Homo sapiens: one gene and its partners. The protein of the gene in region 4 interacts with the protein of the main gene of each other region in a biochemical or structural test. Each region holds a gene or a part of one and is shown on either strand. Other genes may lie near its edges.

Evidence for each region.
Region 1: the proteins of CUL4B (region 4) and KPNB1 form a complex in vitro, tested with the Homo sapiens proteins (one study listed by BioGRID).
Region 2: the proteins of CUL4B (region 4) and BRWD1 form a complex in vitro, tested with the Homo sapiens proteins (one study listed by BioGRID).
Region 3: the proteins of CUL4B (region 4) and DCAF4 form a complex in vitro, tested with the Homo sapiens proteins (one study listed by BioGRID).
Region 5: the proteins of CUL4B (region 4) and DCUN1D5 form a complex in vitro, tested with the Homo sapiens proteins (one study listed by BioGRID).
Region 6: the proteins of CUL4B (region 4) and DDB2 form a complex in vitro, tested with the Homo sapiens proteins (one study listed by BioGRID).
Region 7: the proteins of CUL4B (region 4) and PAFAH1B1 form a complex in vitro, tested with the Homo sapiens proteins (one study listed by BioGRID).

Annotation. Positions count from the first base shown.
Region 1 is NC_000017.11:47,656,198-47,660,308, reverse strand, and holds part of KPNB1 (importin subunit beta-1), read right to left. Parts: intron 3,450-4,111; coding exon 3,249-3,449; intron 1,802-3,248; coding exon 1,649-1,801; intron 1-1,648.
Region 2 is NC_000021.9:39,306,796-39,310,906, reverse strand, and holds part of BRWD1 (bromodomain and WD repeat-containing protein 1), read left to right. Parts: intron 1-4,111. UniProt on the Homo sapiens protein: May be a transcriptional activator. May be involved in chromatin remodeling. Plays a role in the regulation of cell morphology and cytoskeletal organization. Required in the control of cell shape.
Region 3 is NC_000014.9:72,939,704-72,943,814, forward strand, and holds part of DCAF4 (DDB1- and CUL4-associated factor 4), read left to right. Parts: intron 1-98; coding exon 99-199; intron 200-516; coding exon 517-674; intron 675-2,041; coding exon 2,042-2,121; intron 2,122-3,290; coding exon 3,291-3,393; intron 3,394-4,111. UniProt on the Homo sapiens protein: May function as a substrate receptor for CUL4-DDB1 E3 ubiquitin-protein ligase complex.
Region 4 is NC_000023.11:120,536,352-120,540,462, reverse strand, and holds part of CUL4B (cullin-4B), read left to right. Parts: coding exon 1-93; intron 94-1,090; coding exon 1,091-1,195; intron 1,196-1,692; coding exon 1,693-1,803; intron 1,804-2,253; coding exon 2,254-2,339; intron 2,340-3,428; coding exon 3,429-3,536; intron 3,537-4,111.
Region 5 is NC_000011.10:103,061,161-103,065,271, forward strand, and holds part of DCUN1D5 (DCN1-like protein 5), read right to left. Parts: intron 3,218-4,111; coding exon 3,115-3,217; intron 1,255-3,114; coding exon 1,199-1,254; 3' UTR 1-1,198. UniProt on the Homo sapiens protein: Contributes to the neddylation of all cullins by transferring NEDD8 from N-terminally acetylated NEDD8-conjugating E2s enzyme to different cullin C-terminal domain-RBX complexes which is necessary for the activation of cullin-RING E3 ubiquitin ligases (CRLs).
Region 6 is NC_000011.10:47,217,368-47,221,478, forward strand, and holds part of DDB2 (DNA damage-binding protein 2), read left to right. Parts: intron 1-4,111.
Region 7 is NC_000017.11:2,596,229-2,600,339, forward strand, and holds part of PAFAH1B1 (platelet-activating factor acetylhydrolase IB subunit beta), read left to right. Parts: intron 1-4,111. UniProt on the Homo sapiens protein: Regulatory subunit (beta subunit) of the cytosolic type I platelet-activating factor (PAF) acetylhydrolase (PAF-AH (I)), an enzyme that catalyzes the hydrolyze of the acetyl group at the sn-2 position of PAF and its analogs and participates in PAF inactivation.

The DNA of each region.
Region 1 (4,111 bases), on a different chromosome or scaffold from region 4:
AATCACCCTTAAAAAGCCAATTTTGACAAATGCTACCCCTTAGATGAATCTCGAGGACATCATACTAAGTAAAACAAACCAGTCGCAAAAAGACAAATATGATTCCACTTACGTAAGGTATTTCGTTAGAGTAGTAAAATACATAGAAACTGAAAGTAAAATGGTCGTTACCAGTGGCTGAGAAAGGGGGAAATGAGGAGTTGTTGTTCAGTATGTACAGTTTCAGTTTTGCAAGATGAAAAAGTTCTGGAGATTGTTTCCACAGCAATGTGAATCTACTTAACTAACTATACATTTAAAAATGATTTAAGATGGTAAATTTTATGTTATTCATTGCATTTTCAGCCAAAATGTTTACATATATATTATACATACACATACATATACATATATATATATTTTTTTTTTTTGGAGACAGAGTCTTGCACTGTTGCCCAGGCTGAAGTACAGTGGTGAAATCTTGAGCCTTGAACTCCCAGGCTCAAGTGATCCTCCCACCTCAGCTTCCCAAGTAGCTGGGATTACAGGCATGTGCCAAAGCACCTGGCTATATATCCTGTTTCTTAAAAACACCTTCCTAAGGTGGTATGAAACAGACCAATTGCTATAATTTTTATTTATTTCATTTTTCATTATTTTTTTTCCATTATAAGCCCTGTAAACACAAGAGCTCACAAAACTGGTTAACAACTCAGTTGTTCTTCTCCACAGAAATTTTTTTAGAGACAGGGTTTTGTTACGTTGCACAGGCTAGTCTCAAACTCCTGGCTTCAAGTGATCCTCTTGCCTTGGTGGCCCAAAGTGTTGGGATTACTGGATGTGAGCCCCAGCACCCGGCCTCCACAAAATCTTTAGTACAAGGCAAAAGATTCACACAATCTTAAAAGAAACCAAAGTAAACCAACATATATAGTACATACCATAATTTCTTTCTTTTATTTTTTTTATTTTTTATTTTTTTTGAGACAGTCTTGCTCTGTCGCCCAGGCTGGAATACAGTGCTGCAATCTCGGCTCACTGCAACCTCTGCCTCCCAGGTTCAAGTGATTCTCCTGCCTCAGCCTCCTGAGTAGCTGGGATTACAGGCGCACGCCACCACACCCGGCTAATTTTTTTGTATTTTTAGTAGAGATGGGGTTTCACCATGTTCGTCAGGCTGGTCTCAAACTCCTGACCTGATGATCCACCCGCCTCAGCCTCCCAAAGTGCTGGGATTACAGGCTTAAGCCACATCGCCCAGCCTATTCCTTTCTTTTTTTTAAGGGACGATATCTGACTTTGTTGCCCAGGCTGGCCTTGAATAACTGGACTCAAGCAATCCTCCCGCCTTAGCCTCTGAAGTAGCTGGAGTACCAGTATGCACCACCATGCCCTATAATTTAAAAAAACCCAACAACATTCCACACTTTGGACTGCAAAAGGAAAAACCTAAGCTTAGAAACACTTTATTTCCAAAAGCATGATGAGAAACGGCAAACACTCCATGGGGATATCTCACACAATACGAACTCGACTAAACTGGAAACAAATACTTTTAAGTAGGTGGTACTTTCTAAACCATAAACTTAAGAAAACAAAACAAAAAACTTTCATTCAACTCTTTCATCCCTTACTGTCTGAATCTATACCTTATTGTCAAAAAACTTACCTCTTTATCAAAGTTTGCTTTGGTGAACTCCAATGAGTTCAGGAGTGCATTCGTAGCAGCTAGCTTCACATTATTACTAGGCTCTTCTTTCCTCATCCCCTGGATTATGGCAGTCAGAATCTCATTGGATTTATCTTGTAGCTGCTCTGGGTCCTGTAACAAGCAGAGAAGTGCAATGAATATACAGTCAGCCCTCTGCAGCCATGGGTTCCACATCTGTGGATTCAAACAACTATGGATTGAAAATATTTAGAGGAAAAAAAATGGATGGTTGCATCTGTACTGCACCAAAAGGTGCATGTACACCTTTTTTTCTTGTCATCATTCCCTTAATACAGTATACCAACTATTAATATAGCATTTACATTGAATTAGGTATTGTAAGTATTCTAGAGATGATTTAAAGTATATGGGAGGATGTGCATAGGTTATATGCAAATACTACACCATTTTATGTAACAGACTTGAACATCTGAGGATTTTGGTACCTGAGGAGGGTGCTGGAATCAATCCCCTCCAAAAGACTGCCATAAGGAGCTTCACGACAGAAGCAGTCCTTCTTCTGTTCTTAAGAGACAGGGTCTGTATTGCCCAGACTAAAGTGCAGTGGCTATTCACAGGCACTACCACAATGCACTGAACCCTCAAATTCCTGGGTTCAAGTGATCCTCCCACCTCAGCTTCCCAAGCAGCTGGGACTACAGGTGTAAGCCACTGTGCCTGGCTTAATTGGCAGTCCTTTTAACTGTAAAGTTCACTCAAGAAAGTATCATGAATTGGTGATCTTTCCCCACCCGTTTCCATTTGGGAATAACACTGCAAACCACCTGCAAAATGTCTCATGGTACTGGCAATCCAGAACTGAACAAAACCAAGTCAAACTCATCAACTTCATCTTTGACTTCTTAGCATAATGACTCTGGGTATGAGGTAATATTCGCTTTCCTCCCCACTTCTGTGCAAATGGAGATGGCAGTCTGTTCGTATTTTCCAGGCCATCTGTACTCTAAAGTAAAGCTTCAGGGCATTTAAGGGCCAAGGCCAAGGATCGACACCTAGGCACATCTAGGGAGTCTAAGTCTGGGTCAAGTGCTGTGGGCTCCTTTGCTTCATAAAGTCTATATATTAAAATACACACCAAGAGTGGTAACCTCATCAGGAACAACAGTGCTGGGGGGGCTACATCTAAAATACTGTGTCTCCAGTGGCTAAACCAACTACATCAAATGTTGGCAAAACTTTCCGTAATGTTGTAAATGAAAATGCGCCACAACATTCATGGTACATTCGGGATCTTAAGAAAAAAGACTGGGTCAGGGATAATCCAAATGAGAATATCCTCATTTTGTAAGTCTAGAATCTAAGACTCTTCAAACATAGACTTCTGTTTTCAGTTTGCGATCCTCAAGTTTCTTTACTTTAGGGCATGATTAGCAATGTGAAGACACAGGCCTAAGGGAAATAAATCAGTCTCACTTTCAAAACTGTGCAATTTAGCTTGGCTTTCTTCGTGATTCAATAAGGTAGTACTAATATCATTGATGTCACAGCTAGAGGCAATCAGAGGTATATAAACCAGATACATTAGGCAAGCACTTACTATATCTTGGCAAATATAACCGATGGCTTCCAATGTCGACTCCTTCATGTGCTCTGTGCTGTTGGGGTTTGTGACATTGGCCACCAGCTGAGGAATGAGTTCTGGCCACTGGTTTACTGGGATCTCTGCACAAGCAATACCAGCCACACACTGTGAGGCAGAACTAGGCCGGTAAGTTTCTGTACCCAATGTCTGCAAAACCTGCACCAAAAAAAAAGACAAAAGATACAAATTTCTAACACTATTTGACCACATTTTGCCCACCACCATACTTATATTAGTGTCTCTGAATTCTTTTTTTTCTTTCTTTCTTAAGACAGGGTCTCACTATGTTGCCCGGACTGGAGTGCAGTGGCACGATCACAGCTCACTGTAGCCTCAATCTCTACGGTGCAATCTATCCTCCCGCCTCAGGCTCCTGAGTAACTGAACTACAGGGGTGGATATGCTGACATGCCCAGCTATCTTTTGTTGAGACAGGGCATCACCATATTGCCCAGGCTCAAAAAAAAAAAAAGGAAAATACAAGGCCTCAGTCAGTTGTCCAGGGTGGAGTGTAGTAGCAAAACGATAGTGCAATGGCACAACGATACTGCAGCCTTGACCTCCCAGGCCTCCCTGAGTAGCTTAGACTACAGGCACATGCCATCACACCCAGCTAACTTTTTTGGGTTTTTAGTAGAGATGGGGGTCTCCCTATGTTGCCCAGGCTGGTCTCAAATTCCTGGCCTCCCAAAGTGCTAGGATTACAGGTGTGAGCCACTGTGCCCAGGCAGCTGTCTCAGAATTCTTTTTTTTTTTGAGACAAAGTCTCGCTCGTGTCCCCCAGGCTGGAGCATGATGGCGCGATCTCGGCTCACTGC
Region 2 (4,111 bases), on a different chromosome or scaffold from region 4:
TTCTAAACTTTCAAAGTCTTTTAAAAATACCTTATTAAGAAGTATTCCAGGCCAGCTGCGGTGCTAACACCTGTAATCCCAGCACTTTGGCAGGACGCTTGAGGCCAGGAGTTCTAGACCTGCCTAAAGTGAGGTTGAGGATGTAGTGAGCCCTGATCAAGCCACTGTGCTCCAGCCTAGGTGAGCGAGACCCTGTCTCGAAACGCAACAACAAAAAAGAAGTATTTCAGATGTACACAAATGAGAATAATGTAATGCACCGCTGTATATCATCAAATTTGAATAATAATAATTTTTTTTTTTGAGACAGTCTGTTTTGAGGAGCAGCCTCGGCTCACTGCAACCTCTGCCTCCTGGGTTCAAGTGATCCTCCTGCCTCAGCCTCCTCAGTAGCTGGGATTACAGGCACCTGGCTAATTTTTGTATTTTTAGTAGAGATGGGGTTTCACCCTGTTGGCCAGGCTGGTCTCGAACTCCTGACTTCAGGTGATCTGCCTGCCTCTGTGTCCCAAAGTGCTGGGATTACAGGCACCTGGCTAATTTTTATATTTTTAGTGGAGAAGGGGTTTCACCATGTTGGCCAGGCTGGTCTTGAACTCCTAACTTCAGGTGATCTGCCCGCCTCTGTGTCCCAAAGTGCTGGGATTACAGGCGTGAGCCACTGCGCCTGGCCAACAAATTTGAATTTTGAAAGTTACTAACTTGCTATATTTACTTTGGTTTCTGTTTGAGGTATACATATGTTTTAAGAAACTATCAATGGACATCTTCAAACAAAAATAATAGAATAAATGACCCACCCACTAGGTGCCCATTTTCCAACTTCAGTGATTATCAGAGAATGTTGCATATTGTCTGCTCCCTTGTTTTTAAGCAAATTCCAGAAAGCCATTCATTTCACTGGTTAATGTGTTGGAATGTTTTAAGGCAGATTCCAGACACTACATTTCATCTCTAAGTTTGTCAGAGTTCATCTCTAAAAAATAAGGACTGCTTATTATATCATCAAGTGCCAATATCACAGAGTCCATATCCAGATTTTCTTTTTGTTCCCTGGGTGTCTTTTTTTTTTTTTTTTTTTTGAGACGGAGTCTCGCTCTGTCGCCCAGGCTGGAGTGCAGCGGTGCGATCTCGGCTCACTGCAAGCTCCGCCTCCCGGATTCACGCCATTCTCCAGCCTCAGCCTCCCGAGTAGCTGGGACTACAGGCGTCCGCCACCACGCCCGGCTAATTTTTCTGTATTTTTAGTAGAGGCGGGGTTTCACTGTGTTAGCCAGGATGGTCTCGATCTCCTGACCTCATGATCCGCCTGCCTCTGCCTCCCAAAGTGCTGGGATTACAGGCGTGAGCCACCGCGCCCGGCCTCCCTGGGTGTCTTTTTACAATTAGTTTGATTTGGTCTTGAGAAAGGTCCATACATGCATTGACTGATTGATTCTCTCCCCGCCCCACCCTGGGTCTCACTCTATTACCCAGGCTGGGGTGCAGTGGTGTGATCACAGCTCACTGAAGCCTCCATTTCCCAGGCTCAAGCAATCTTCCCACCTCAGCCCTCCACCTCCTGAGTAGCTGGGACCACAGGCATGTGCCACCACACCTGGCTAAGTTTTTTTTTTTTCCCCTAGAGAAAAAGACTCGCTATGTTGTCCAGGCTGGTCTCAAATGCTCCTCCCAAAGTTGGAATTACAGGTGTGAGCCACCACACCTTCCCTGATTTTTGTTTTGTTTTTTTTTGAGATGGAGTCTCACTCTGTCGCCAGGCTGGAGTGCAGTGGTGTGATCTCGGCTCACTGCAACCTCTGCCTCCCGGGTTCAAGCGATTTGCCTGCTTCAGCCTCCCAAGTAGCTGGGACTACAGGCGCACACCACTATGCCCAGCTAATTTTCGTAGTTTTAGTAGAGACGGCTGTTCACCATGTGGGCCAGGATGGTCTCCATCTCTTGACCTTGTGACCTGCCCGCCTCGGCCTCCCAAAGTGCTGGGATTATAGGTGTGACTCACCGCATCCTGCCCCTTCCCTGATTATCTTAAATCTCTTTTTATCTTGAATAGTCTTGTTTCTATGCCATTGATTTACTGGAGACCAAATCATTTATCCTGTAGAATGTTTTACATTCTGTATTTGTCTTATTGTTCCTTATGATGGTAACTTGTTCCTTTTTCTTAGTGGTTTTCATCTTCAGATGAGAATCATCTGGGGAGCTTTATAAAATCTGGTTGCCCAGAGTATGCCCCAAACCAGTTAAATCAGAATCTTTGTGGTGGGACTGGACATCAGTATTTTAAAAAGCTTTTTAGATGATTCTAGTATTAGTGTTTGTAAAGCCACAATTTATCTTAAACTTGTGACCATGCTGTTATTCCAACCTGTATTTGGGGGCAAGAGTATTTTTGGTACTTTTGCTTTTTTTTTTTTTTTTTTTTGAGACAAGGTGTCATTCTGTTGCCCAGGCTGGAGTGCAGTGGTATAATCTTGGCTGACTGCAACCTCTGCCTCACAGGTTCATGCAGTTCTCCTGCCTCAGCCTCCTGAGTAGCTGGGATTACAGACATGTACCACTATGCCTGGCTACTTTTTGTGTTTTTAGTAGAGACGGGGTTTCACCATGTTGGCCCGGCTAGTCTCGAACTCCTGACCTTCAGTGATCCACCTGCATTGGCCTCCCAAAGTGCTGGGATTACAGGCATGAGTCACCTTGCCAGGCCTACTTTTGCTTCTTATAAGAATTGAAGCCAAGTGTGGTGGCTAAGGCTACACAGAGACTTGAGAGTCTGAGGTGGGAGGATCACTTGGTGCCAGGGGTTTGAGAGCAGCCTGGGCAACATAAGCAACACCTCATCTGTAGAAAAAAAGTTTACAAAACCTTGGTTTACAGGTGTGAGCCTCCGTGTCCAGCTCCCAAGTTTCTAGTCTCTACCTGCACTGCTATATTGCTAGACTGTAGCTCATCAATCACACTACCATGATCATTAAGTGTCCCCAAGTTACAAATGAAATACCTATAGAATGATAGATCTCTATAGTCAAGGACAATACAGAATCTATAGAGGAAAGAAATTAGCTACCCTCAGGATGGAAGGGTCTTTTAGAGTTCCACTGTGAAAATTAAATGATAATGGGATTAGTTTCAAGACTTGTGGGAAATACAAAATTGTAAAAGAGGTTTTTGTTTTAAAGGGGTTTTACTATTAAAAAAGGCTCAGCCTAAGACTTAAAGTATCTGGCAGTGCACCCAAGTTCCAAGTCATAGCCTATAATCTTCTATCATAACCTGATTCCTTAATCCTGTAGAGTACTTAAAATGGTAATACCAGTCTCCTCCCAGTTTGGGTAATTAAGTCATAACCCAGGAAGGTTAACAAGCGAAGATGAAGAAAAAGGAAAGTACAAATGTATTCACACAAGTATATATACATATAATATGTGCAATATATACATACAAACATATATACATAAAATATATACATATAATACATTGATATTCATACAAGTACATATTCTGATGTAGTAACAAGTTTTGTAATTACTGAGTTACATTTATTTGTTTGATAGAGTAAAAAAAATTACAAAATAAATTTGAAATCTATTTACAAGTTTAGTCTTAGAAAATTCATGGTTAGGTTTGTCTAAGTTAACCCTGCTGAGGTGATTAAAATAACTGTACGCTTCTAAGTGTAGTGAAAAATGCCCAAGGAAATTTGATTAAATGTGTAAGTGGTATAAAATATTTTATGATTAAATTTTCAATTATAACCAGGCTCAGTGGCTCACACCTGTCATCCCAGCACTTTAGGAGGCTGAGGCAGGTGGATCACCTGAGGTCAGGAGTTCAAGACCAGCCTGGCCAACAGGGTGAAACCCCGTCTCTACTAAAAATACAAAACTTAGCCGGGCGTGGTGGCAGGTGCCTGTAATCCCAGCTACTTGGGAGGCTGAGGCAGGAGAATCACTTGAACCCAGGAGGCAGAGGTTGCAATGGTCTGAGATCAAGCCATTGCACTCCGGCCTAGGCAACAAGAGCAAAACTCCATCTCAAAATAAATAAACAAATTTTCAATTATCAATTAAACAGTAACCAAAGAATAAAAGTAACTATTTGTTTCTGGATT
Region 3 (4,111 bases), on a different chromosome or scaffold from region 4:
TGAAGGCTGCAGAACTGCCCGAATGGACTCCCTGCCCCCGTCAGAATGGCTGGAACTCAAGTCCTGGGCTGCAAGTTAACACAGCTGTGTGTCAACAGGTCTGACTCCCGGGCAGCACAGCCCGCTCACGATTCCGGCCACGGTGATGACGAGTCTCCGTCAACCTCGTCTGGCACAGCTGGGACCTCCTCTGTGCCAGGTAAGGCCACTTGCGGGGTGGGAATCCTGGCCCTTGCACACAGGGAAGGCTGAGACCCGTTCCTGGCTTGGAAGGAATTCCAGGAGCAAATTGAAACACTCAGGGAAGGAGCTGGGTGCGTCAGGAATGGTGGTCATGAGGCAAACCGCCTCCCCCAGGACTGAGCACAGTCCAGGATGTTGCCTGACAAGGCAGCTCATCCCCGCCCTCAGAAAAGACAGGCAGCCACGAGGTGGGGGGACAGGCCACTGGGCGCCCAACTCAGGTGGTCAGTTCACAGTGGTTGAAATTGGTGCATTTAATTTTTTTGTCTAAAGAGCTACCTGGGTTTTACTTTGACCCTGAAAAGAAACGCTACTTCCGCTTGCTCCCTGGACATAACAACTGCAACCCCCTGACGAAAGAGAGCATCCGGCAGAAGGAGATGGAGAGCAAGAGACTGCGGCTGCTCCAGGAAGAAGACAGACGGAAAAAGGTGGGCTCCTCACCCCTTCGCCCCCTGTCCTCTCCGCTCCTGCCAGCACCTGTCCATCCACTGTTGAAAAGGGTGCCAATTAGATGCCCCTGCGACACTTAGCAGAGGCACTTCAGGGGGTGTGGCCCTAGCTTTTCCCTGACAGGAAGAAGACAAGAATAAGAACAGCCAAGAGCCCCCTTCTTCCATCCCCGTTTTCTTGTTCGATAAGTTGTTTTTTTTTTTTTTTTTGAGGCGGAATCTCACTCTGTTGCCCAGGCTGGAGTACAGTGGCATGATCTCAGCTCAGTGCAACCTCCACCTCCCAGATTCAAGCAATTCTCCTGCCTCAGCCTCCTGAGTAGCTGGGACTACAGGCACGTGCCACCATGCCCAGCTAATTTTTTTATTTTTAGTAGAGACAGGGTTTCACCATGTTGGCCAGGTTGGTCTTGAACTCCTGACTTCAAGTGATCTGCCTGCCTCAGCCTCCCAAAGTGCTGGGATTACAGGCGTGAGCCACCACACCCAGCCTTCTTCAGCAGTTCTAACATTTTGTCATTCCTGAAGGAATCTTGGGAGGCAGTGTGATATAATTTTAGTAACTGTTTTTTGGGGTTTTTTTGAGACAGGGTCCCACTCTGTTGCCCAGGCTGGAGTGCAGTGGCGCCATCTCGGCTCACTGCAACCTCTGCCTCCCAGGTTCAAGTGATCCTCCTGCCTCAGCCTCCCAAGTAGCTGGGATTACAGGAACCTGCCACCATGCCCAGCTAATTTTTGTATTTTTTTTATAGAGATGGAGTTTCACCATGTTGGCCAGGCTGGTCTCGAACTCCTGGCCTCAAGTAATCCGCCCACCTTGGCCTCCCAAAGTGTGGGATTAGAGGTGTGAGCCACCATGCCCATCCCAGCTGTCTATTTTAAATAGAAGACCAGGATGCATGGTTTGGAATACAGGCCATCTTGTCTGTTTGCAATACAGACCAACAGGTCTAGACGCTAACATATTTTGTTGTCAAGGTAGGCAATGGAATGTAAAGTTCCAGCCCTGGGTCACCACGGGTGGAATGGAGAGTGGTGCAGACCTGTTTGCAGTCCCATTGCTGCACTCACGCACCTGGTGGCTTCGTCCCCCCGGGTGTATGTGGATGGGGAGCGTGGGCAGAGTTGACGAGCAGACTTTCCCACTCACACTTTCTTCTGCTGGGCCTTTCCTCTTGCCGAGGAAGGGAGACTTGGAAAGGACACCGTCAGATTTTTATGCATATAATTTCTGCCAATTTAGTGCCTGTTTCCTTCATTACATCCTATGGAACTAAAAACATTCTCCATCATCCCCTAACAAATAAATCTTCATTGAATTGTTCTCTTTTTTGTAATAAATATAGATTGCCAGGATGGGATTTAATGCATCTTCCATGCTACGAAAAAGCCAGCTGGGTTTTCTCAACGTCACCAATTACTGCCAGTAAGACAATGCCTCTTTGTTATGTTTTCTTCATGAATGTTCTTTTCCTGTTTCTTATTTTCATGGTATAAGAATCCAGTCTGGATAGACCATGTGGCTACCCCGTGAAGCACCTGCACAGTTGAGGGGCTCCAGTTCACACCCTGCCTTCTGCTGCTTAAACCCACCCTGAGAAAGCTGTTCTCTCTAGAGCGAAGGCGGGGGACTCTTGCAGGAGGATAGGGAGAGAGGATGGGGACGTAGGCAGAGATGTCTATTCTCTGTTACTCGTAAGTCATTCTAGTAGAAGCTCCTACAACTTCATTCCCATGACATTTCTGCATCCTTCTTTCCCTTCTAATGAGTTGTCACCAACAATGGGGCATTAAGTGGATGTGTGTGTACTAAACCTTATCAAAGTACTTATGATGGCTGATACAATTCTAACTAAAACCCTGTGAAATAGGCCGATACTTTCCCCCATTTCCTGAAGAAGAGACTGAGGCTCAGAGTGGAGTGATTTGCTCAAGGTAAAGCTAGAAGTGGGGAACTGTCTGACTCCAACACCTGAGCGCCCAGCGCTGCGTCTCCTGCCCCCACTGTACATGCTCAAGTGAAGAACCTGCATTTGAGGCAGCTTCCTGGGGCACAGCCCTCGGACCTTGGAGCAGGGCCCCTTCAGGGAAGGCCAGAAACACCGTAGGTATCAGGCAGGGCAGGCCCCTCCTGTTTTCCTCCTTCTGAGACAGAAAGTTAAAAATCTAGTTAGATCTGTTCCTCACCCTGCGAAACAAGAGGCGGCCGTATCCTGGGGCTCTTCCCGGCAGCCGTATCCTGGGGCTCTTCCCAGCAGCGGAGTGCCCTCCAGACCATTGTTTCATCTCCCGCACTTTCGTCATCTCAGGGGAAGGAGCTGTACTGAATGATGCAGACACAACTCCCTCTAACTCCCACTCTTTGACTCTGCAAATGGGCCACCCACTTCTTCATTTTCATCTTCCTGAGCGTTCTGTGGGGAAACTCAAATTCGGATAATCTGGGATCTTGCTCAGCTCCATTGCTGAGAAGTACTGTGGAGCAGGCTGACGAGGAGAGATGGGCGTCAGCGGGGCAGGGAAGGCCAGAGACCCCCGAATCTTCTTCATGGATGTCAGCTTCAGCATCCATGCCCCCACCCTCTGTTTCTGCAGTTTAGCCCACGAGCTGCGTCTCAGCTGCATGGAGAGGAAAAAGGTCCAGATTCGAAGCATGGATCCCTCCGCCTTGGCAAGCGACCGATTTAACCTCATACTGGTGAGTGGGAGGGGGACACCTGCCTAGGGTGTGGCTGCCACCCTCTGGACACTTTGTGGCTTAGCGTTGCCAGTCATCAAACCTGGCTCTGGAGAAGCCAACTGCAATGAAAGTAGGTGGCATCTTCTTGGTTGTACGATTTTAACCTGCCTGCTGGCTACCCGCTGGGAGACGCTGAGCTGGCAGGCAGGCTGTGGGGCGACCATCATCACCCCCCACTTCAGCTCCGTCGTTTAACGTCAGAGTCTGGACCCAGCCACACCTTGACTACTGAACTTTACACAATAACTTCTCCTTGGCTGTGTTGTATATGCAATTAAAAAGGCTCACAGTGGACCTGGGGACATCTGCTTCTTCCTGAACTGGGGCAGGACTTGGTGGCTAAACCTGCAGCCCAGTGTGCCTTTGGTCACTAGAGGGTAGGACTCCTTGCTTGCCGCCCCTGGCTTCAGTGGCACCTCCCATCAACACACCTCCATTACATCATTTGCAGGGGGTGAAAGGCCTTCTCTGGTTTGGGTTGGACCCAAGCTGGAAGCCAAGGTCAGCCGCTTAAACCCAGGGGCCAGGGAAAGGTTGGCAGAGAGCTAGAAGGACCACTGCAAACAAAGGTCCCTGACCTTTCGATGGACCACGTAAGAGCAGGGCCTGCCCGGCAAGCCCTATCCTTCCTGGAGGCTGAGGGAAAGCCAGGGAGAGTGAGAGGAGGATACAGAGG
Region 4 (4,111 bases):
GCTTTCTGAAGAATGAGAAATTTATCAATGCCATGAAAGAAGCATTTGAAACGTTCATTAACAAAAGACCAAATAAACCAGCTGAACTTATAGGTATGTTTTCCAGTCCTTTTTCCAGTTGTTTAATGATGTTCTTTGAGTCATAAAATCTCAATCTGAAATTTTTACCAGGTTGTAGTATTACTAATTCCTGATTTGTTTGAGGTTGCTTAGCTGGTATATCAAGTTTGAAGAGTGTTTCTAAAAACCTGGATGTAAGTACTGAAAGCCCACATGTCAAACATAATGTGCTTTCTTTCAAAGACAGTACGTTGGACACTATTTACCTTTATTGATAATAAGCTAATCTGTTTTCCTAGCCTAATGATTTAAAAATGAGGCAGGGTGTTATTTCAAGCTACAAAAAAGGGCAGCATGAAATTACAGTTGTCAGTGAAAAAGAAAAAAGTCCAGGGCAAAAATAAACCTAATAATCTGGGCCCATTTAGCATAAGGATGTGATATACACTACAGTGCTTCTCAGGTTTTTCCACCCAAGTACCCTTAGTGTCAGAGGAGGAGGTAACCTGAGAAGGTCTAGGGTCCTCTGCCAAAAGGATGAAATTTTGTTGCAACCTATCTACTATGTATCCGTAAACATGTAGCAAATTTTACCTTCTACTCTACGATGTATCTGGTTTATTTTAATAGAAAAGTAATGTTTAAGATTGCTTACTATTCCTATAAAATGGATACTCCAGAAGATTCCTCATGTCTTTTCGTGGCTTGGATTACATGATGCCCTCACAGGGCTACATGAGACCTCCCCCACAGGATATCCGTATCCTATTTTCATAAACATCAGTATAGTGGGAAGTACATTTGATCTGGAGTCAGAACACTTGGGTTTGTGTTCAGGCCCTGATGTTATTAGCTCTATGGCACTGAACAAGTCAGTTGATCTTCCTGACTTTGGAGACTTTTAAAAATGCATATAAATTTCTGAAGTATTGAAAAACTCAGTGTATCATACTCCTCTTTGGGTATATATAGTGCCCAGTACCTCGTGTATTCCCCGGTTATTAAACAACAAACTTTTCCCCCATTTTAGCTAAGTATGTAGATTCAAAACTTCGTGCAGGCAACAAAGAAGCTACAGATGAAGAACTTGAGAAAATGTTGGATAAAATTATGATCATATTTAGATTTATCTATGGTAAGTATTTACTAATGTTTTAATATTTTTCTTTTAAAATAGCACTCAACAGAGAAGCTAGCAAGTATATTCAAACTGGAGGGAATATTTATTTGGAAATTACAGATTTAAAATTGTGTTTAATTCATTGGGGGGATACGTGAGGAATGTTACCTGATTGTCCTATGCTTTGGCTCTTCTAGTATTAAGTGCCTTGATTTTTGCTACTTGGCTTAATCTCTTAAATATTGGCACCAAAGCTACCAGTCCACAAAAGCTTTTCTGAAGAAAAGTTAATGCAATCAAGACAGTTACATGCAAAAAAGTTTTACAATAAAGACTTCGAAATGTCTGGCACAAAAATGGATCTCTACTGTTTCTTGCATTTAACAAACTTAAATAAAATGTGTAAAGTAAAATAACTTGGAATAATGGTGTGCTTTATTAAAGCACTTTAAAGCAGTTTTGTCAGTACTTTTTATTGGAATATTATAAATTTTGCATTTCTTTTTACATAGGCAAGGATGTTTTTGAGGCCTTCTATAAGAAAGATTTAGCCAAGCGCCTGTTAGTCGGAAAGAGTGCATCTGTAGATGCTGAAAAATCAATGCTGTCCAAACTTAAACATGGTAGGTTTCTCATTCTTTCTGTTCCTTTTCTTTGATTCCTGAAGGAGAATGTTAGCTTTTTACCCTTTCAATCGATTTCCTCTTTTGTCACTCATGTCTATGTATATATGATGAAAACATAAATTGAGCAAGCTCCTGAGGTTTCCAACTTATTGTACATAATATCCAGAGTTGTTTTTTTTAAGATAAAGCATTGTTCTTGGTTTTATTATTTGTATAAAAATTTCCCATTTATTTTATACCTAAATAGTAGATAAGGTTACTACAGGATTAAAGAGTTTGACTCTGAATTAATGGGGCATACACTTTGGGGTAAGGATTTCTTTTTATTCTTATGAAAGTTACAGATCATACTTCATACTAAAGTTTTGTATTTCGTGTTTCCCACTTTTAAACCTCTTTTGTTTTTACCACTTTAAAATATTATACATGTACAAACATCTTTAATAGAATGCGGAGCTGCTTTCACCAGCAAACTTGAAGGAATGTTTAAAGACATGGAACTTTCTAAAGACATCATGATTCAGTTCAAACAGGTAAAAGTGAGTTAAACTCTTAATTCCTCAAACTTAGTTGTATTTAGTTATCTGCTTGCTATGATTTGTACTAAAGAGGATAAATAGAAACGTGTTTGTTGTAATTCATGGCAACTGAGGTGATATTCACAGTAGAAAAAAAAATTGGTGAAATATAAGTATATTTGACCTACTTTAGGATTTATTTTTGACAAACACCCAGAATAACACAAAAATAAAAATAAAATGTATTGAACTGAAGTCAGTACAAGAAGAGCTATAGTGGGAAAAGGGCTTTCCTCAGCATCTTATCGTTTGGTAATTTGCATGTTCAGAGCTTGCAATGGGGAGAGAGGAGAAGTGATAATGCAGCTGTATAAAAGCCTTTGGGGACATTGGGGATAGAAAGCTAGATCCACAGTTTTGAAGATGTAGGTAGAAAGTAGTTTTGAAATGTTTAAGATCATAGGTGATAATGATGGCAAATTAGATTTTCCTCTTTTGGGTTTTAGTAGTGACTTCTTTACCCCACAGTGTTGCTAAGGTGGGAAGTGGAAGTGAAAGAATTAAGAAAAAATCAGGGTCAGTAAGATTATGGATTCTATAGTAGCTACAGAATAGGGCTTATCTGCTTTGCCCTTTTCCCCTCTTTTTCCTTCCCTACTCCAGGTCACTCCCTGCAGACAGGCAGTGGAGCAAGTGAAAAACTGGAGACTTGGGCTGGCTGGGGGGTGAGGAATGGGGGTTGCTGCAAGGTGTTTAAGCCACATAGGGGTATTCAAAGGTGGGGACTGCAGGTGGTATTGGGGAAAAGAATGGAGAAGAGATCCTATAACGGCCCAGCTGTATGTGAGAAATTATTTAAGTTGATAACGCCTGTAATGAGGTCATGTGATCCTTGTATGCCTTTGTATCAAAATGTTAACCTCTGTACTTGCCTAGTGCATTTTGTGTAGGTTTCATTTAAAGTCTTCTTAATAGTTGCCTTTTATTTTAAGGATGGTCAGTGTTTGCATGTAATTTCATAACAGGGAACTTCTTAAATAGGTTATTATGATATGAAATGTATGCAGTTTTAAGATCTCAGTGTGTGTTTTGATCTTCTTATAGTATATGCAGAATCAGAATGTTCCGGGAAATATTGAGTTAACTGTGAATATCCTGACAATGGGCTATTGGCCGACATATGTGCCTATGGAAGTTCATTTACCACCAGAGGTAAGAGTTACTGTTTAGAACTGAGTTATAGGCATAGAAATCATAGCATTTCCATTTTGCTTGTCATTTAAAAATAGATACTTAGAAAAAAATAGAGACCCAGGGTCTCGCTGTATTGCTCAGGCTGGTCTTGAACTCTTGGGCTCAAGTGATCCCCCCCGCCTCAGCCTTCCGAAGTGCTGGGATTACAGGTGTAAGTCACCAGGCTTGGCATGGATACTTTTAAAAGTGTATGTCAGTAAGCGCACCAACACCAAATACCAACTGCTTTAATGTTTTACTTTTGTACTTAGAAGTCCAGTTAAGCACATAGCTAATAATGCCAAATTTCTGGGTTCAGGGTCAATTTCCCTGGCTCTTCTTCCATCTTCCCAGGTTATACCCCTCACTCTACCTAGCTATTAAGAATTCTTGCACATATTTCACCCATAGGTGGGATTGCTAAATGATGGGTCCTTGATTAAATCTATCCTGACTCCTGGTAAACTGTCTAGTCCAGGACTGAAGCCCATAAAAGGGATTAAGGCTAGACAGATAGATATTGAGAATCCTCCATGGAGATGATTATGAAGGCC
Region 5 (4,111 bases), on a different chromosome or scaffold from region 4:
AAAAATCAACCTTTACCTTAAATCCTAATAGAAACACTCCCTTATTATGGAAAAATAACCTCTTTACTTCTCTCTACTCAAACAATGACACTAGAAATGTTTCTGAAGTTGTGACTGGGCTATGAATATGAACAAAGTTTTCATATCACTGGGATACTGGATGGTTTGAAAAGGAATGTACAAACAGGCCTGCTGCTAGTACAAAAGTGCCTTTTACATGAATTAGGAAAGCCTTCCCTTTCCTCAAGACACTTGATTACCAACAGGCAGAAAATTGTGATAATTAGCAAGCTGCAATACTACCAACGTAAATGGCTCTATTGAGTTGTGCACAATTAATTATACCCAGAGTTCTCTCATGATTCCTTATTCTATTGTCTTCTTTTCCTATGTGTATCTTAATTAAATCCATATCACAGCTAACGTTCTCTTAAGGCAAAAAAAAAAAAAAAAAGTGCTTTAAACAAAATTCCCTATATAATGACAGTTAAAAATATAAATATGCTATTATCAACAATAATAATGATGATACAACTTAATAATACAACTTTTTTAGAAAACAAAACAACTGGACATAATCTTTCCAATTCTAAGCTCTCTGAGATAAGACATCTGCATAAGACCTTGGCAGCTTTTATAGAAACCCAGAGCTAAAAGTAGGAGCATTTTTCCAATACCTAGAAATGTTTATTAGCTGCATCAGCAAATCATTATCCCAGAAGTCAAGGCCAACAGTCTTCCAAATTGTGCAGAGATGACTATAATGAGCCATACCATCAGCAGACTATGTTGCCAAATATTAAGACTGTTTAAAATCTTGAAAATTCTGTAAATTCACGGTGAATTGGAACCTCAAAAATCAAAAAATTCAAATTTACAAAAATAAATACCACTCTGACACTCAAGGGACATCTTCACTTTAAGGCCTTTGTCACAAATCTGAATCTTTATTGTTCTGAAATAAATGTTATAAACATAACTCAAAACAAAAACTTCAATATTCAGTCTAAGAAGAGGTGTGGCTCAATGCCCATCACATGTAACAAGAAAAACCTCCTTTAAAAAAAGGAAAAAAAAGTACTATGAGAAGTCTTTCATATGAATGAAAATGCACCCGTTGGATTTTTTTCCCCCTCATCACATTAGCTTGTATACACGTGGGAATTGAAAGGTTTGCATTTTCTTCACATAGTTCTTGCTATGATGTCTGACGGACTTTTTGCCACTCAACAAATTCATCAAGAAGAACAGGCCCTAGAAAAAAAGAAACCATTTTTGTCAGAATTCAGTGAACTCATCTCTCCAATTATAAAACAAACTCCCCACGAGCTCTGCAATGACAGAGGAATGACCCTTCCTTTCTTTGGGTGTTCTGCTTCTAGACACCTTATTCCATTTAATGGTGCTTTCTTATTAGCCTTTTCTTTTTTGCCCTTAAAGACACAAGGAACAATGGTATCTATAGCAACTTCCTTCTCAAGGTGTTTCATGAACCCTCCAGTAACTGAGTCAATACAAATCTCTCCCTTTTTCTAAGTGTCCATAGCATTCTGGCATTTAATTATGAAACAATCTGAAAAGTGTTGAAGGTAATATTTCTATGTTGCCTCCCCAAGAAGTGTACAAGCTTGTTGAGAGGGATCAGCCATAATAGAGACTTACTTTATTCCAATAACAGGATGTAGTACAAAGCTGAACACAAAGCAAGTGCCTAATGAATATCTAATTAATGAGCTAAGTACTATTCTAAAACATATATTTTTATAACGTAGGGGAGGTCCAAACTCATTTGCTGACAGAGCCAAGTAGGCAGTTTAAATGAGCTCAGTGTTTATTTTGTTTAAATGTAGGAAAAAAATCACCGCCACAAAGAAATATGCTTGCTTTATTCTTCTTAAAACACATAATCCTCTGGTGGTCTTTTTCCATTGCTTTTGACAGACATGTTTCTCTATCGTAAGAAAAGCAGCAGAGCACATATGATAATAAATGGCAACTGAAAAACAGCCTAGGTGTTGGCATACCATGAACTGTCAAACTGAAAAGCAAGTCCAACACAGTTAACACTTGACTCCAGCCTCTGACTCCTATAAAGGAGTACTATAAAGGTACAGTTTTGTCAGACTTTTTAAATTTTTCCAACAAATCTAAATGTTGTATTTTAATACAAAATCTCCTAGTTTTAAATGCTGATACAAAATACATAAATATACACATCTACGGGCCATATACAGCCTTTGGGCTGCCAGGTTACTGCTGCTAGGTATTATTTCTTTAAAATAATACTAAATTTTATACCATCTTGTAGAGAGAGGACAAAATATATGTGGGAAGAAATAAAGTTATCCCTTCTTCTGTTATTTTATTTTTTCAGTGTCACAGAAAAAAGTGTATAATTTCAGTTTAAGTTTATAGGAATGTACCTTTCCTTGTAACCCTTCTGAACACTGAAAACACATGCAACCAACCAAAATGGTGGTTGGAACTGAAAAAAATTTATAGTTCTACAGAATTAACTTGGTTTATCTAATTAATTTATCATTATTTCAAAATCCTGTTTTATGGCATTCTAGCCTTTCCATGGAGGAGTATGGACAGATATTTTAACTTGACGGATTGAAAAATTATAACTATTTCACTATCAGTTAGCTCACAATCAATTTATAGTTTTCAGAGAGAAGTTATACTGACATTATTTGCCATATTGTTAATGGGTAGCATAATATTACAATAATGTTAAAGCTTTTTCTATTGTGGCTGATTGTTTTGCTGTTATATTTTTAAAATCATGACTGTACTTTTCTTCCATAGGCAAATGCCAGGAAAGACAGAAACAAAGCTGAATTTTAGCTTCTGGATGCAAAAATTATAATTTAAATTTAGCTAAAATGTTTGGTTGCCGAGGAACTGAAAACATTTCATTTACCAGCATAGATTTTATATAATACTGCTGAATCTAAGCTCTCTCTCTACTTCTCCCACAATCCCTCACACAATTAAATAAGTTACTATTACAAAGTTTAAAACCTCTATGCTAATACTACACAAATGCATACTCTCATTTAATATTTTTGGAAATTTTGTTTTCAAAGGAACATGTTATGTTATACTTACAAGCACCATCTTCATCATAGTTACTAAGATCAGCATGGACTGTTCTGCTGAATTCTAATACATTGTACCATTGATCTTTGTTCATAACACGATACTTTGATTGCTGCAAAAATGATTTAAATATTTGTATTTAAATATTTAAACAAACATCATTTACTCAATTTAGTAAACTAAGTTTTAACTGTTTTTGTGATTTGGTTTTTTCTAAAACATTTACTATTTTTTTAATTATTTGTGTTTCTAAGAGATTCCTCATGGGCATTTACATATTAACATAATCTATTTTTTACTTTTTTTTTCATTTTTGAGGAATAATAAGAGCACTGAGTACTAACAGTAAGGATAAAACTAACTTTTTCATATGTATATACTTGTGTTACCACCAATGAGATCAAGATATATAACATTTCCTACATCCAGTATGTTCTATTGTGCTGCTTCCTAGTAAATCATTTCTTTGCTCAAGATTTACTGTTTAGCCACATTTTGAGTTTGGCATCTTTGGAAACAAGTGAAAGAGTATAGGCTTCGATTTAAATCCCACCCTTGCCACTTAATTGAGTGATTTTGGGAAAGTTACTTAAGAATAGAAACCACCTCCTCATTTGTTAAATGGGGATAGAATTTAATTCAAAATGGTATTATAAAGATTTTTAAAAATATATGCCAAACAACCTGCACATAACAAGTGTCTGAAAATATTTAGTTCTTCTCAGCTCCCCATAGAGCTGAATATTTTTACATTCAGTTAAATTTATTTTTGCCCAAAACTACTAATAGGAAGAAAATAGATACCATCCATCAAAAATAATTTATAGGACTTACAGATTGAATCATGCGTAAAACTCATTCATGTAAGACCTTTTCATATCATTGTCTCTTTTTTTTTTTTTCTGAGACAGAGTCTCGTTCTGTCACCCAGGCTGGAGTGTAGTGGTGCAATCTCAGCTTACTGCAACCTCCACCTCCCTGGTTCAAGCAATTCTCGTGCCTCAGC
Region 6 (4,111 bases), on a different chromosome or scaffold from region 4:
CTCCATCTCAAAATAATAATAATAATAATAATAAAAGAAAATAAAAATAAGGAGTGTTTGTTGAAGGCATGAAAGGAATATTGATGTCATCCAGTAATCATCAGGAAGAGGACTGGGATCAAAATTAACTGTGGGCATTTTCAAATACGTAAATGATGATGATATATATTTTTCTAATGCCTGTCCTTAAAATACTAGAAGATATAGACTATTGATCACCCATAGAATTGAAGCCCCTTCTGGGCTGGGCGCAGTGGCTCAGGCCTGTAATCCTAGCACTTTGGGAGGCCAAGGTGGGCTGACCACGAGGTCAAGAGATGGAGACCATCCTGGCCAACATGGTGAAACCCCGTCTCTACTAAAGATACAAAAAATTAGCTGGATGTGGTGGTGTGCGCCTGTAGTCCCAGCTACTTGGGACACTGAGGCAGGAGAATCGCTTGAACCCGGGAGGCGAAGGTTGCAGTGAGCCGAAATCACGCCACTGCACTCCAGCCTGGGCAACAGAGCGAGACTCCATCTCAAAAAAAAAGAATTGAAGCCCCTTCTTACCACATTGACCTCATCTTACGCCATTGTCTTTTCTCACTTCTATGCTGTAGCCACACCAGCTGTTTCTATTCCTGAAACCGGGTCTCTGTAATTGCTGTTCCCTTTGACTGGAGTGCTTTTCCCCCATGGTCTTCTCATGGCTGGCGTCTTCTCTGCAGGTCTTTGCTGATTCTACCTCTTCAAAGAGGCTTTCGCTGGTTGTCCTTACTCATAACGTAGATCCCACTCCTCCACCGTCATTCCCTGTATCATTACCCTGCTTCATGTTTCCCCCAAGTGTTGATGGGTGTCTGAGATCTGATGCTTATTTGTATGTTTGCCCACTGATGGCAGGGACCTTTCCTTTCTGGTTCACCATCCTATTCCCAGTGCCTGGAACAAAGTTTGGCCTAGAGTAGCTGCTTTATATTTGTTGAATGAGTGAGGGGCTTGAAGTGTAATTGAGCAGATGGGATGTATACATACGAGGTAATTAACAATACAGATGCCAAGTGCTACAGAATGTGAAAGAAGGAAGAACCCCTTGTGAATTGGAGTCAATAAAGAAGACTCCATGGATGAGCGAGGAGGAGCAGTATTAGATAAATGGAGAGAAAAGAAGGAAAGACATAGTGTGACTGGGTGAGGTTTGGCACAGAGTTCTTGGGAATGGTCTTTGTTGTGCTAGAGTTTATCATCCATTGCTGAGGGGTGAGTGTGTCGTCCCCTCTAGGACCTTTAGCCAGCCCAGCTGGTGGCTGACATTGGAGGGCTGTGCTGTGAAAAGTGACACTGGGTTTAGAGCAGGAGTCACAAACTTATAGGGCTCCAGAAGCCAGAGTGGAAAAAAAAAAAAAAAGAATGTATGGTGGTAGGGTCAGGGGTAAACTAGAGATGACTGTTGTGCAAAAATGTAGGTCTTTTGATATCAGATGTGATTTTTCTCAAACAAAGACACAAATCCTCATTTTTTAAATGTCATATATCTTGAGTTTTAAAAAAAATTGTAAAATACACGTAACATAAAATGTATCACCTTAACCATTTAAAAGTGTTTTTTTTTTGAGGCGGACTCTCGCTCTGTCACCCAGGCTGGAGTGCAGTGGCGCAATCTTGGCTCACTGCAAGCTCCGCCTCCCGGATTCATGCCATTCTCCTGCCTCAGCCTCCCCAGCAGCTGGGACTGCAGGTGCATGCTGCCACGCCTGGCTAATTTTTGTATTTTTAGTAGAGATGGGGTTTCACCGTGTTAGCCACGATGGTCTCTATCTCCTGACCTTGTGATCTGCCTGCCTCGGCCTCCCAAAGTGCTGGGATTACAGGCGTGAGCCACCGCCCCCAGCCAACTTTTTAAAAAATAATGATAAAATACATATAACATGAAATTTACTTTCGTAACCATTTTAAAGTGCACAGTTCAATGGCGTTGGGTAAATTGTGTAAGCAGTCTCCAGAACTTCATTATTTTTTTTTATTTTTATTTTTTGAGTCTCATTCTGTCACCCAGGCTGGAGTGCAGTGACACAACCATAGCTCACTGCAGCCTCCACCTTCCTGACTCAAGGAATCCTCCGGCTTCAGCCTCCCATGTATCAGGGACTACAGGTACGCACCACCATGCCTGGCTAATTTTTAGAGATGTGGTCTCTCTATATTGCCCAGGCTGGTCTCAAACTACTGGCCTCAAGCAATCCTTCTGTCTTGTCTTCCCAAATTGCTCGGGATTACAGGGCTGAGCCACTGTGCTGGGCCTCTAGAACGTCTTAATATTGGCACTGAATGAAACTAAACACACGTCTCAGCCGAATTCTGCTTCAGTCCACTATTTTTCTAGCTCTGGTTTAAAGGTAGACATGAGGGGGAACCCAGGAGGAGGTCTCTTTATTTATTTATTTGTTTATTTTTTTGAGATGGAGTCTCACTCCGCCGCCCAGGCTGGAGTGCAGTGGCGCAATCTCGGCTCACTGCAAGCTCCGCCTCCCAGGTTCACGCGATTCTCCTGCCTCAGCCTCCGAAGTAGCTGGGACTACTGGTGCCCGCCACCACACCCGGCTACTTTTTTTATATTTTTTAGTGGAGATGGGGTTTCACCGTGTTAGCCATGATGGTCTCGATCTCCTGACCTCGTGATCCGCCCGCCTCGACCTCCCAAAGTGCTGGGATTACAGGCGTGAGCCACTGCACCCAGCCAGCAGGAGGTCTCTTAAGTGGAGGGATTTGGAGAGCAGACCACCAGAAAAGGCCAGGTTAGACAGGTGTGGGAGACTGGAATTCAAAGTGTGAGATGGGTGTTCAAGGAACAAGTGCCAGAAGCCCCCAGAAAGGCAGTCAGAGGAGTGCCGCGGACAGAGTGGGGTAGGTTTCCTGCCCAGCTAAAGAGGCAGGTGACCGCTAATAAGGCAGCTTGAAGTTGAAGTCAGAACCCAGAGCTCAGACAGGAAGAAATTTGTTTTCTTGTTTTCTCCAGGAGTCTAGGACATGGGAATAGAGGAATTTAGCTTATGCCTGGAGATGGGAAGAAGCAGTGTAGGGTATTCTAGGGGAAGAGCTTCCTGACTAACAGGATAATGACAAGTGCTTTGAACTTGTGCCAGACTGAGATTGCTTTTTTTCTTTGTTGCATCACCTTATGACATGCGTGTAACCTTCTTTACAGTGTAAACTTTCTTTACACTGTAATGAAGATTGGTCTAGGCATTGAATTTTGTGGCTTGCATTTGCAGGGAGCTAGGTTGGAGCAGAGGAAGGGTATGGCAGTCTGGAAGAGACCTGTCTGGTTTTACTCCCAGATGCTGACAGCAGAATGCTGATTTGAGACCAGTTACTGGAGGAGCAACAGTGCCTCATTTTGTCACTTCTTTAGTCATCTGACCTTGGCTGTGACCTTTACATTCTTCAGGCCCTTGGCAAGGGAACATGTATTACAGTTTCACAATGAAGATAGCTTAATTTTATTCCTATTATAAAAACAATGTATGGGGCCAGGCGCAGTGGCCCACGCCTGTAATCCCAGCACTTTGGGAGGCCGAGGCGGGTGGATCACCTGAGGTCAGGAGTTCCGAGACCAGCCTGACCAACACATAGTGAAACCCTGTCTCTACTAAAAATACAAAAATTAGCCGGGAGTAGTGGTGCACGTCTGTAGTTCCAGCTACTCAGGAATCTGAGGCAGGAGAATCACTTGAACCTGGGAGGTGGAGGTTGCAGTGAGCTGAGATGGTGCCACTGCACTCCAGCCTGGGCGACACAGTGAGACTCCATCTCTCAAAAAACAAAACAGTGTATTCTTATCATAAAATACAGAGAAAAGTGTAAAAAATAAATTAAATATGATCCAAAATCCCCATTTTCAGCATCCCTCTGTGCATGTGTACACTATTTTTTTTTTTTTCCAAGTCTGAGTCTTGCTCTGTCGCTCAGGCTGGAGTGCAGTGGTGCGATCTCACCTCACTGCAACCTCCGCCTCCTGGGTTCAAGCTATTCTCCTTCCTCAGCCTCCCGAGTAGCTGGGATTACAGGCATGCACCACCACACCAGCTAATTTTTGTTTTGTTTTGTTTTTTTAAGACAGAGTTTCACT
Region 7 (4,111 bases), on a different chromosome or scaffold from region 4:
CTTGTTAATGTTTTTTATTGTTCTCGCCATATAAGTATAAATTAATGTCAGAAATATTTGGCAAGAAATAGGGGGTACAGGAATACTGCAATAATCTAAGAAAAATACTACAATTGTTTTACTTAAAACAGTAAATCTATTTGAGATTTTAAAATAGTGAACATAAAAGGTGGGGAAAAAAGGATAAGATAATTTGCATGAAAGCCCCTTCAGATCTTTTCTCTTGTGTTGCTCTTTGAAAGGGACCTTTTTGTGAGATACTGCCATAAGCTAGGGTAGGTCATTTTAATGCCCTGTATCAAGCATTCACATGAGTAGACATCTTCAAAAGAATTTCACATATAGGTGGTAAATGTGACTTTGATTAGCCTTATGAATGCTTGTCAGTGTATGATGTATTTTTACACTTTTGTTCTTTTTAATATGATTAGAAAGTAGAAGGGTTATTATGGTGAGGAAATGAGTAAGGTTGGGAATGATAATTCACTGTATTATGTGTCTGACATATCCCTATTCCTACTGTTTGTAGAATATCAAAGCACACTAAGGTCCAGGTGCAGTGGTTCACGCCTGTAATCTCAGCACTTTGGGAGGCCGAGGCAGGTGGATCACCTGAGGTCAGGAGTTCGAGACCAGACTGACCAATATGGTGAAACCCCGTCTCTACTAAAAATACAAAAAAATTAGCCATGTCTTGTGCCATGCGCCTGTAATCCCAGCTGCTGGGGAGGCTGAGACAGGAGAATAGATTGAACCCGGGAGGCGGAGGTTGCAGTGAGCCGAGATCGTGCCACTGTACTCCAGCCTGGGCGACAGAGCAAGACTCTGTCAAAAACAAACAAACAAAACCCCACACACTGAGTGGTGATTTTTCAGTAGATTGTTGTTAATCAGGAGCTTAAGATAATTTGACTTAAGGAGCTTTAGTTCCAAGTGTATGTAGTGTTTCTTGATACATGTTGGAGAATCTTAGGCTTAATTTGGAGATTAATTTTTAAAATTATTCATAGTTCTGTATAGAACTCTTAATGAGATTGGAAGGAATTTTTTAGTACAATTTTTTGTTACCTGTTTTTCCAGATAAAATATCTCTAGTGTAAAGAGATTTTGAGATGTTTCTGGGAAGGAAAAGTCAGAATCATAATTTATGCTTTTCTAGCTAGAACATCCGTGTCTTTTTTTTTTTTTTTTTTTTTTTTTGAGGGGAAGTCTTGCTCTGTTGCCCAGGCTAGAGTGCAGTGGGGTGATCTCAGCTCACTGCAACCTCTGCCTTCTGGGTTCAAGCGATTCTCCTGTCTCAGCCTCTTGAGTAGTTGGGATTACAGGTGCCTGCCACTACACCTGGCTAATTTTTGTATTTTTAGTAGAGATGGAGTTTCACCATGTTGGTCAGGTTGGTCTGGAACTCCTGACCTCGTGATCCGCCCGCCTCTGCCTCTCAAAGTTCTGGAATTACAGATGTGAGCCACCACACCCTTCCCTATTTTCTATTTTTTAAAAATAATATAAATGTTTCTCTCTCAGTTGTATACTAAGTAACAGAGAGACAGAAAGTGTGTGTGTGTGTGTGTCTGTCTGTCTGTCTGCGTATATGAGACTTTATGGCTTATATTTTAAGTATCCAGCAAAAATAAGACCCTCTTGTTTACATGTGGTTCATGTTATTCATAATTTGTCATCTTTGTGAATAAGTCATGGATGCTATAGAAATTGTCAACATTAAGATGAAGATGTCTGGCCAGACATGGTGGCTCACACTTACACTCCCAGAACTTTGGGAGGCCGAGGCGGGTGGATCACCTGAGGTCAGGAGTTCAAGACCAGCATGGCCAACATGGTGAAACCCCGTCTCTACTAAAAATACAAAAAAATTAGCCGGGCATGGTGGCGCACACCTGTAGTTCCAGCTACTGGGGAGACTAAGGCAGGAGAATTGCTTGAACCCGGGAGGTGGAGGTTGCAATGAGCCGAGATCGCACCATTACGCTCCAGCCTGGGCAACAAGAGCGAAACTCCATCTCAAAAAATAAATAAATAAATAAAAATAAGATGAAGATGTCTTAAAAAACCCAAAGCAAAATATTAGGGCAGAGTGAATTTTCAATATCTTCCCATTGAGTTCTAAAGCAGTGAGTCATGCGCTCTTTTGCCAAAGGGACTTGAGGCTCGGTTGGTTTTAAACCAAGCTGGCCATTTCTGCTTGTGGTCCTAAAATATTTTTTACTTGCCTCTAAGTCCCTGTTAACGAAAATATTTCATTATGACAGGTAACTTATTTTTATGTGCTTTGGAAAGAGGGAAATAGTTAAGTTTTGAAGTGGAAATTCTTTGCCACTGTTTTTATTATGTCATCTACAGTACAACTATTACTTTTTTTTTTTTTTTACTTAGAAAGTTGTTCTATTTAAAATAAAACTAGTGGTATACAATACGAGTTCTGAAAAAAAGACAGACCTACCGTTCTCCAGAAGATGCTTAGCTGTAAATTGAATCCTCGTCATTGAAGGTCAAACATTTTGAGAAATCTGTATTTCATGAAGAAAGATGCTGTATTATGTAAGCGTAATAGTTAACTGCAGTGAAGGCTTTTTGGATTGTTCTTTGTTGCTGGTTTGGCATGGCACTTTTTGGCTAGTCATTGAAATGGAACCTTAGTTTAACTTCTGTTACATATGTAATTTTTAACCTTGGCATGGCAGTCATAGAATTTAATTGATATTTATGAAATGCTTTATATTCATTGGTGGCAGGCATCATAAGCACTTATTATTTTATTTCTTGTTTTCTTTTTAAAAGATGGTGGCTTCTTGTTGAAACTTACCTAGATAGGACTAATCTGCATTTGTCAAGGATACTTCTGGAATGGTACTCTCTATTGTCTTTTAACATTGTCATAAACGTTTCTCTAGAACTTTCTAAATATTGAGCTTGGTACTGATTTTCATTTGTTCTTCTGCCAGCTACTTTTTGAGGTAGATTGGTATTTTTATGGATGAGAGAACTGAAATCCAGAGAATTTCTTTTCCTGTCGAATGTTAGGTTAGTGACTAGAATAAGGTAAATATTGCAGTCACAGAACTCTTGGGTACTGCTTTGTAAAATCACACATTCCTTCTTTCTATAACGATTGGACTCCTTAATCTTTGTTAAATGGTGAAAGTTGGTGGTATTTATTGCCTGCATCATTTAAATTGGCATTTATTAACATATGGTCTTGTATTGTTGACTGCTTTGCATGCATAAGGCTTTTGGCATTTGAGTAGCTTCTCCCAAAAAATGCCTAATACTGCTTTACAGATAGTATTAATAAGTGAATAAGTACTAGTTGCATTTGACTGAATGGTTATGTGAAAGGAAATGTGCTATCCTAAAGATCTTTGTAATAGTTGACTCCGGTGATCTCAAGAGAATTAAGGTGATGGAGGAAAGAGTGGCTGCATTTCGTATACAGAGATTTTATATTCTCTGAGGGAACAGGGTTACACTTTGACAGAATTCTTAAGTATAAAAAGTGAATTAACTCAACTGGACAAATTACCTATACATTTTGATTATCTGCTTTTGGGGCTCTTATGTTGACAAGAATTGACAGTTAACTGAGGCCATTAAAAAATTTTCTGAGACTTTTTACAAAAGTAAAATTAAGAATCTTTGAACATTTTAATAAATTTAATTTTTGAAAGCATTGTAGAAAGTTATATGTTTATTAAAATTTTACAGTGCAGATTAATCCATTTTTAACCTTTTTTTTTTTTTTTTTTTTTTTTTGAGGTAAGAGTCTCACTCCATCACCCAGGCTGGAGTGCAGTGTCTCGATCTCAGCTCACTGCAACCTCCACCTCCTGGGTTCAAACGATTCTTCTGCCTCAGTCTCCCGAGTAGCTGGGACCACAGGCACATACCACCACAGACAGCTAATTTTTGTATTTTTACTAAAGAACTCCTGGCCTCAAGTGATCCACCCGAGTTGGCCTCCCAAAGTGCTGGGATTACAGGTGTGAGCCACCACACCCAGCCCAATCCATTTTTAATCTAAGGTAAAGATAGAAGAGTTTGTTTTATGGGTTGGGCACTGTGGTTCATGCCTGTAATCCCAGGACTTTGGGAGGCC